Homo sapiens: one gene and its partner. The protein of the gene in region 1 purifies or fractionates together with the protein of each later gene. This does not show direct contact. Each region holds a gene or a part of one and is shown in the gene's direction. Other genes may lie near its edges.

Region 1 (3,806 bases):
GCGTGAGCCACCAAGCCCGGCCAATTTTTTTTTTTTTCAATAGAGACCAGAGTGTCTCTGTGTTGCCCAGACTGGTCTTGAACTTCTGTCCTCAAGCAATTCTCCTGCCTTGGCCTCCCAAAGTACTGGGTTTACAGGTGTGAGCCACTGTGCCCAGCTCTCATACCTCGTCTTGATGCAGTAGAAGTAGTGGTTAAGCCTGGAATCAGATCTTGGTTTTCCCTCTCTGAGCCTCAGTTTCCTCATCTGTAGAGTAGACTTCCTTCACGGGTGGTTGTGAGGATTTAATGTATGTATAGGGATAAGGCCCAGAACGTAAGTAAACTCTAAGTACATGGTAAGTGGCAGTCACTGCTTACAAGTGGAGCCAGGGTTCAGGGTCAGAGCTAGAGACCTACAGGGAAGAGTAGGTGAGCTGTCGGGGCTAGTGATGGAGAGAGAGAAGAGACTGGAGATCCAGCTTGGGGATCCCCTTGCTTCCTGGCCCAGGAGCCACCATGGAGAGTGAGAAGCTGCCAGAGAAGCAGGAGGAGGATGGAGAGAATGTGCTACCATGGAAACTGGAGGAGGAGGGCGTTCCCAGGAGGAGGGAGTGATGGATAATGTCAAGTGTCATAAGAGAGGATGCGAGTAGGGAGGGCAGGAGGGTGATGGGAGCTCTCCAATTTAGTTTTTTACATGGCCCAGGCAGCCCCCAAGCCTGGATCAAATCCCAGCTCTCAAGCTAACTGGCTGTGTGACCTAGACAAGGGATTTGCCTTCTCTGAGCTTCAGTTTCCTTCTAGAGTTGAGATGTGGGAATTGGTCCATCTCTAATACGATCATCAGCCTCACTTAATAAGAGTCCTAGCTTTGCCGAATTCTTGGCCACGTGCTAGCAGTGTGATCTTAGGCAAGTCACTTCACCTCCACGAGAGCACTCTCTGAAAGCTAGAGATATGGTAAGCAAAGTGCCACCAAAGTGCCTGGCACATAGTGGGGCCTCGATACAGGCTTATTCTCTGATAATTACACGTGTGCCAGAGGCAGCTGCTCTAAGGAGGCTTGCTGGGCTTGGAATTAGAAATGCTCCTCAAGGGCTGGGTGCAGTGGCTCACGCCTGTAATCCTAGCACTTTGGGAGGCCAAGGCGGGTGGATCATGAGGTCAGGAGTTCAACACCAGCCTGACCAACATGGTGAAACCCTGTCTGTACTAAAAACACAAAAATTAGCCAGGCGTGGTGGCGTGCACCTGTAATCCCAGCTACTCAGGAGGCTGAGGCGGGAGAATCGCCTGAACCCAGGAAGCAGAGGTTACAGTGAGCCAAGATCTTGCCACTGTACTCCAGCCTGGGCGACAGAGCGAGACTCTGTCTGAAAAAAAAAAAAAATTAAAAAGAAATGCTCCTCAAGTTGGAGAGGGCCCACTAGCATCCTGAGAGGACTTGGAAGAACAACAGTCCAGGCTGGGCACCTGCTGGGTCTCTGTCCAAAGGCCAGCCCTCTCTTTGTGTCAGCCGCAGATCCCTCACCTAGGGCATGACTACTGGCTGCCAGCTCCCACTAACACCTGCTGCAGATCCAGACTGAAGCCGGCCCCAGCGGCCCCAAAGCCCCTAGGAAGTGACCACCCCCCATCCCTGGCACCCAGATCCTGGCCCCTGCACTCACACACAAAACACATACAGATGCCTCTCTTTCATCATGTATTTATTCCTTTATTTCTGGGAGCCGGGAGGAGTGACGGGAGCAAATCAGGACCTGGCCGCCCCACGCTGAGCTTGCAGATATTGAGAGTTGGGTGACAGATGGCTGTGTGGTTCAGGCTGCAGGCAGCTTGGGAATTCAAAATGGGGCTTAGAGAGGAGCTGGAGGGGGCCCTCGAGGTGGACGTAGTGATGCAGTAGGGCATGGCACTGCGAGGTTGCCCGGGTTCTAGTCCCAGCACCATCACCGGGGATGAGCCGTTTCAGAGTGTGGCACTCTGTCACACTCCATTTCATTGAGAGGCCACTGAGACATTATCAATGGGTAATGTACAGCACTTCCATGGCATAACTCATTTAATCTTCACAGCATGATGATGAGGTAGGCATAGTATCATTACCTCCATTTTACAGATGGGGAAACTGAGGCTCAGAGAAGGGAATGACTTGCCCAAGACCACATGGCTTCTCAGTGATTGGCTCAGCTAGGATCCCACCTTTGGTCCTTCAAGTCCACTTCCTCTGCTTTCCTCTTCCTGCACCCTGAGAGGAAATGCTCTGAGTATACCGAGGGTCCTCAGGAGACTCTCACATCCAGCTCACAGTCACAGGCTGAGCATTCCCTGTGCTGGGTTCTGTACCTCATCATGTTGGCAGCAGAGGCACGTGCCAGCTGCTCAAAAAACTGCTGTAACCTTGGTAGATCCCTCTCCCCATCCATTTCTTCCTTGCCTTGGAAGTCCTGCTTGTTTGATAATTTTCTGACTGACTGCCATGTTGTTGCCTTGTGACCTTGGGCATGTCATTTCACTCTGAGCCATTTCTCAGTCATGGATGACAGCACTTAGCTGATGAGAAGTTGAGAAGATTCAGAAAGAGGCTATGAGTGAAGGACCTTGTCTGTTTTGGTCATGAAAGTGTTCCCAGGAAATGCAAATGGACACACAGTAGTTATCTACTGAGCTAATGAACAATGTCCCTGGTGCATAGTAAGTGCCCAATAAAATGCAGCTTTTTTCATATTATCTAATGTTTTAGGCCATGCCTGCACCAACCCATGCTTCTTTTTTTTTTTCTTTCTTTCTTTCTTTTTTTTTTTTTAAGACAGAGTCTCACTCTGTCACCCAGGCTGAAGTGCAATGGCGAGATCTCGGCTCACTGCAACCTCCGCCGCCCGGGTTCAAGCAATTCTCCTGCCTCAGCCTGCTGAGTAGCTGGGATTACAGGCACGTGCCCGGCTAATTTTGTATTTTTAGTAGAGACGGGGTTTCGCCGTGTTGGCCAGGCTGGTCTCGAACTCCTGACCTCAACTGATCCACCCACCTCGGCCTCCCAAAGTGCTAGGATTACAGGCATGAGCCACCGTGCCCAGCCCAACCCATGGTTCTTAATGCTGCAGGTGGGTCCGGAGAAAGGCTTTTCTCTTTTAACCATCTCCTTGAATTTCAGAAGGTGGGACAACATGTGCTGGAAAGCAGTTCTTAAGAGGACATCTTTTCCCAAGCTCCTTAGCCTTAGCTGTCCTCTCCTGCCCTCACCAGGACTGCCCTCTCAGGGACCCAAGAGGAAGGGACAGCCTGGAAAGGAAGAAGGTCCCGGGCCATCTGCGTCATGGGGATGGAGTCCCTTGGCGTGTGCCGGTGCAAATACACTCCTGTAACGGGGCTCATCTAGAATCTCCTCTCGGAATGAGGAGACCGCAAATGTGGTTTTGAATCTTCATTGTCCACTTCATTGCTGTGGTGTTGGGCAGGTCTCTGTCCCTCTCTGGGCCTCTGCACGATGGAGGGGTAGGAGTTGATGGTTCTGAAGGCTCTGCCATCCTGGAAAAGAACTGAGACACTTCCCTCATGTTCCTGGGTCCCAGAAACAGACATCTGTTGGTAAAATCTACTGGGCATTTGCCCAGAGACAGGGAAAAGAATGCCTGGGGGTCTGTAATAGGAGCTGCCCCAATTAGGGGCAGGGAGGCGGGCATGTAAAAAAGGAAGCTTAAAGCTTTGTTTTCAGGCTTTTTGCCTACCCCAGGCTCCATCTTGGTACCAAGTACTCAACCTTCTGTTTTCTCAATAAAGTGAGCCCTCTTCTCGGTGTCTGCATCTCTGGCTGTTTTGTTTGCT
Region 2 (4,381 bases), 5.9 Mb from region 1:
TATTACACTATGTGCTTTGATCACACTGTATGCCATCAACCCCACAAAGTAGATACTATCACTATTCTCATTCTGTAGAGGAAGAAATTGAGGCACAGGGATTTGAGTAACTTGCCTAAGGGTACAGGAGTCAACAGCAAAGTCTCAGCTCCTGGGCTCAGCCACCAACAACGTCTCAGCACTCCGAGGGCAGTGGCCACAGTCTCAGAACCCCACAGCTCCAGGCCCTCGAGCCACACTCATGCCGCCCCTCTACCTAGAATGCTCTTCCCTTCCACTTGGCTAATGGAGGGGGAAAAGCATTTCCTCTCCTCCAGGAAATGTTCCTAACCAAGTCCCCTGGGAATCACCCAGTACCTCTCAGGAGAACTTTCCACATTTATTATCTTACCGTTATCCAAGGGCTGATATGCTCAATCCCTGCACCAGCCAGTGAGGGAGGAGGCCAGAGACCAAGTTTGGCTGGTTCCTCAGGGTATCCCCAGGTCCCCAAGCAGCGTCTGCAGCACAGCAGATGCTCACTGATGCTCATCCACCTGTGATGCCTGAATGCATGAAGGCAGGCTCCGCATAGCCCTTTCATTCCTATGGATGTCCCCCACACCACCCAGCCACCATTTAGAGGCATAAGAACGGGGTCCAAGCTAAAGGTCAGGTGGTTCCCCCACCCCCAGTCTCAAGGAGTCCATGGGAATTGCTTAATGGCCTCTGATTGTGTAGCCTGCCCAGACATGGGGATGTTTGAGAATTCTGGAAGAACGTGGGCTGGGCGTGGATAGAGACGCCTGCTCCACCATGTATGCTGGAGGTGTGGATTACAACCCCTGTCCCCCATTGGAGCTTCCCGCGCCGTAATTAGCCTTGATCGCCTCATCCTGGCACACTAGGGCCAGCCACCTAGCAAATGAGTGGTCCCCACACTCCATCCCCATCCGCCCACCCCTCACAGCCCCGCAGGCCAGTTGCCCAGATCCACAGCCCTTACTGCAACCCCTTCAAATCCAGCCACCCTGAGAGATCCTGGCCTGGGAGAACTCTCCTTCCCTGGCCAAAGAAACGACAGGAGAGTTTACTGTCTGGAATACCTGGTGGAGAGAGAACAGAGGAGAGGAAGGGTAGGTCAGCCCCTCTTGCCCCTCCCCACCGCAAATCACACAGGCCCACCTCCCCGGAGTGGGTTTAGGGAGTCTGCACCTCCCAGTCCCCGCCCCCGCCCTCTCTCCAGCGCCCGCCGCCCTCCCCGTCGCGTTTCCTGCCCCCACCCCGCCCCTCTGCGCTATTTAAGGCGCCCCCGCCGCTCGTGCGGTCCAGCAGGGCTCCCGCGGGCGTCACTCCGGCCATCGTCCCCACCTCCACCTGGGCCGCCCGGCAGGCAGGCGGTGAGTCGGGGGCTAGGAAGGGACCAGGGGCGCCACCTGCTCGCGGGAGGCCGGGAGGAGTCTTGGGTCCTCCGATGCCGGGACGGGGGTTGCTGCGGAACGCCCGCCGCGACAGAGCCGCGCTCACCCAGGTGGCCTTGGCCAGGCTCCCACCCTCTTTCCATGGAATCCTTGTAACAACCCGAGGCGGGAGGAATACTATTGTTTCCACTCTATCGTGGAGGAGACTGAGGGGCCCAGAGGTTGTTCCTTATCCAAGGGGCCGCAGTTACTAAAAGGCAAGATTTGAACCCAGGGCCGCTTCCAGAGCCTGGCTCTAAACAGCTTTGCACTTGGGAAGAGGCACCTCCCCCTTGGGAACTTTGTGGCCTGTGCCTCACCCTGCAATGACAATTCCTTTCAAGAGTCTAGAATTTGCCAGCATCAGCTTTGGAGGTGGAAGGGGGTGGGAGTGGAGGTGGAGGAAGAAGACAGGACCAAATGTCCCTCCTCAAGTGGCAGGTGGTCATTATTGCTGACCGGTGGAGCTAAAGGATGATGCTGCCTTCAGCTCCTAAAACCCCTTCCACTACCCAGCCCCTGCAGGCTCAAAGATTAGAGTGAAGCCAGCTGGGTAAGATATGAGGCGGGGAGCAGGGACCTGAGGCTTTGAGCCCCCTAAGAAGCAGAAGATAACACCTCTACCATCATCACTAGCTCCCACTGTCTGGGGGTAGCCAGCCTTGGGCAAAAGGGAGGAAGGGCTTAGCCCAGCTGCACAACTTTGGATAAGTTCCTCAAATTCTGTTCCCATAGGCAAAGGAGCCTCAACTCCACCCAGATTTCCTTGGCCTGTGTCCATCCTGGGGCAGTGGCTCGGGGACAAGAGGGACATAGATGTCTGATTAGGCAGGGACCTTAGCCAAAGCAGAATGAGACCATACAAAGAGGTGGGCAGCCATCATCCAAAAATCTGGGTTGGGTCCTGCCTGCACTGCTGAGTGGGAGCCTCCAGGCCAGTCCTTCCCCTTCCTGAGCCTGGGTTTCTTTGTAGGTAGAACGGGCGTGGCAGACCTCCCTGCAGGCTTGTTGCTGGGCGAACGAGAAGGATGCCATGCTGACACACTGACGTGCTCTGTCTCCTTGCAGACGGAGGCCCGGGAGCCATGGGTGACTGGGGCTTCCTGGAGAAGTTGCTGGACCAGGTCCAGGAGCACTCGACCGTGGTGGGTAAGATCTGGCTGACGGTGCTCTTCATCTTCCGCATCCTCATCCTGGGCCTGGCCGGCGAGTCAGTGTGGGGTGACGAGCAATCAGATTTCGAGTGTAACACGGCCCAGCCAGGCTGCACCAACGTCTGCTATGACCAGGCCTTCCCCATCTCCCACATCCGCTACTGGGTGCTGCAGTTCCTCTTCGTCAGCACACCCACCCTGGTCTACCTGGGCCATGTCATTTACCTGTCTCGGCGAGAAGAGCGGCTGCGGCAGAAGGAGGGGGAGCTGCGGGCACTGCCGGCCAAGGACCCACAGGTGGAGCGGGCGCTGGCGGCCGTAGAGCGTCAGATGGCCAAGATCTCGGTGGCAGAAGATGGTCGCCTGCGCATCCGCGGAGCACTGATGGGCACCTATGTCGCCAGTGTGCTCTGCAAGAGTGTGCTAGAGGCAGGCTTCCTCTATGGCCAGTGGCGCCTGTACGGCTGGACCATGGAGCCCGTGTTTGTGTGCCAGCGAGCACCCTGCCCCTACCTCGTGGACTGCTTTGTCTCTCGCCCCACGGAGAAGACCATCTTCATCATCTTCATGTTGGTGGTTGGACTCATCTCCCTGGTGCTTAACCTGCTGGAGTTGGTGCACCTGCTGTGTCGCTGCCTCAGCCGGGGGATGAGGGCACGGCAAGGCCAAGACGCACCCCCGACCCAGGGCACCTCCTCAGACCCTTACACGGACCAGGTCTTCTTCTACCTCCCCGTGGGCCAGGGGCCCTCATCCCCACCATGCCCCACCTACAATGGGCTCTCATCCAGTGAGCAGAACTGGGCCAACCTGACCACAGAGGAGAGGCTGGCGTCTTCCAGGCCCCCTCTCTTCCTGGACCCACCCCCTCAGAATGGCCAAAAACCCCCAAGTCGTCCCAGCAGCTCTGCTTCTAAGAAGCAGTATGTATAGAGGCCTGTGGCTTATGTCACCCAACAGAGGGGTCCTGAGAAGTCTGGCTGCCTGGGATGCCCCCTGCCCCCTCCTGGAAGGCTCTGCAGAGATGACTGGGCTGGGGAAGCAGGTGCTTGCTGGCCATGGAGCCTCATTGCAAGTTGTTCTTGAACACCTGAGGCCTTCCTGGTGCCCACCAGGCACTACGGCTTCCTCTCCAGAATGTGGCTTTGCCTGAGCACAGACAGAGTCAGCATGGAATGCTCTTGGCCAAGGGTACTGGGGGCCCTCTGGCCTTTTGCAGCTGATCCAGAGGAACCCAGAGCCAACTTACCCCAACCTCACCCTATGGAACAGTCACCTGTGCGCAGGTTGTCCTCAAACCCTCTCCTCACAGGAAAAGGCGGATTGAGGCTGCTGGGTCAGCCTTGATCGCACAGACAGAGCTTGTGCCGGATTTGGCCCTGTCAAGGGGACTGGTGCCTTGTTTTCATCACTCCTTCCTAGTTCTACTGTTCAAGCTTCTGAAATAAACAGGACTTGATCACAAGTAGGTGTGTATTGATGCTATCATGATGTGCTGGGGGTTGGGGGATAGAGTTATTTTGCCCAGGCTTCCTTTACTTCTTGGTCCTGTATAATCTCTTTGGTCTCTATAACCCCCGATTCCAGCCAACACCTTGAACCCTCAAACTCATACCTTCTGCCTCCAACAGCCCTGATTTCTAAATGCTCTGCCTTTTGAAATGCCTCAGACACTATCTTCTTTTCATCCCCACTGCTCCAGCGCATTAATCAGTGGTCAAAGCATAAACGTCCTTGCCCTCCCTCCCCCATGCCCATCGTCGCCCTGGCCACACTGCCCCCTGCAAA

The links.
Region 2: the proteins of OPRD1 (region 1) and GJA4 purify together in Homo sapiens (affinity purification with western blotting, with the first as the bait; one study listed by BioGRID). This does not show direct contact.

What each region holds. Positions count from the first base shown.
Region 1 is NC_000001.11:28,867,483-28,871,288, forward strand, and holds the end of OPRD1 (delta-type opioid receptor), read left to right. Parts: 3' UTR 1-3,785; downstream 3,786-3,806. UniProt on the Homo sapiens protein: G-protein coupled receptor that functions as a receptor for endogenous enkephalins and for a subset of other opioids.
Region 2 is NC_000001.11:34,791,690-34,796,070, forward strand, and holds GJA4 (gap junction alpha-4 protein), read left to right. Parts: upstream 1-1,309; 5' UTR 1,310-1,379; exon of another isoform or gene 1,380-1,657; intron 1,658-2,412; exon of another isoform or gene 2,413-2,507; 5' UTR 2,508-2,524; coding exon 2,525-3,526; 3' UTR 3,527-4,058; downstream 4,059-4,381. UniProt on the Homo sapiens protein: One gap junction consists of a cluster of closely packed pairs of transmembrane channels, the connexons, through which materials of low MW diffuse from one cell to a neighboring cell.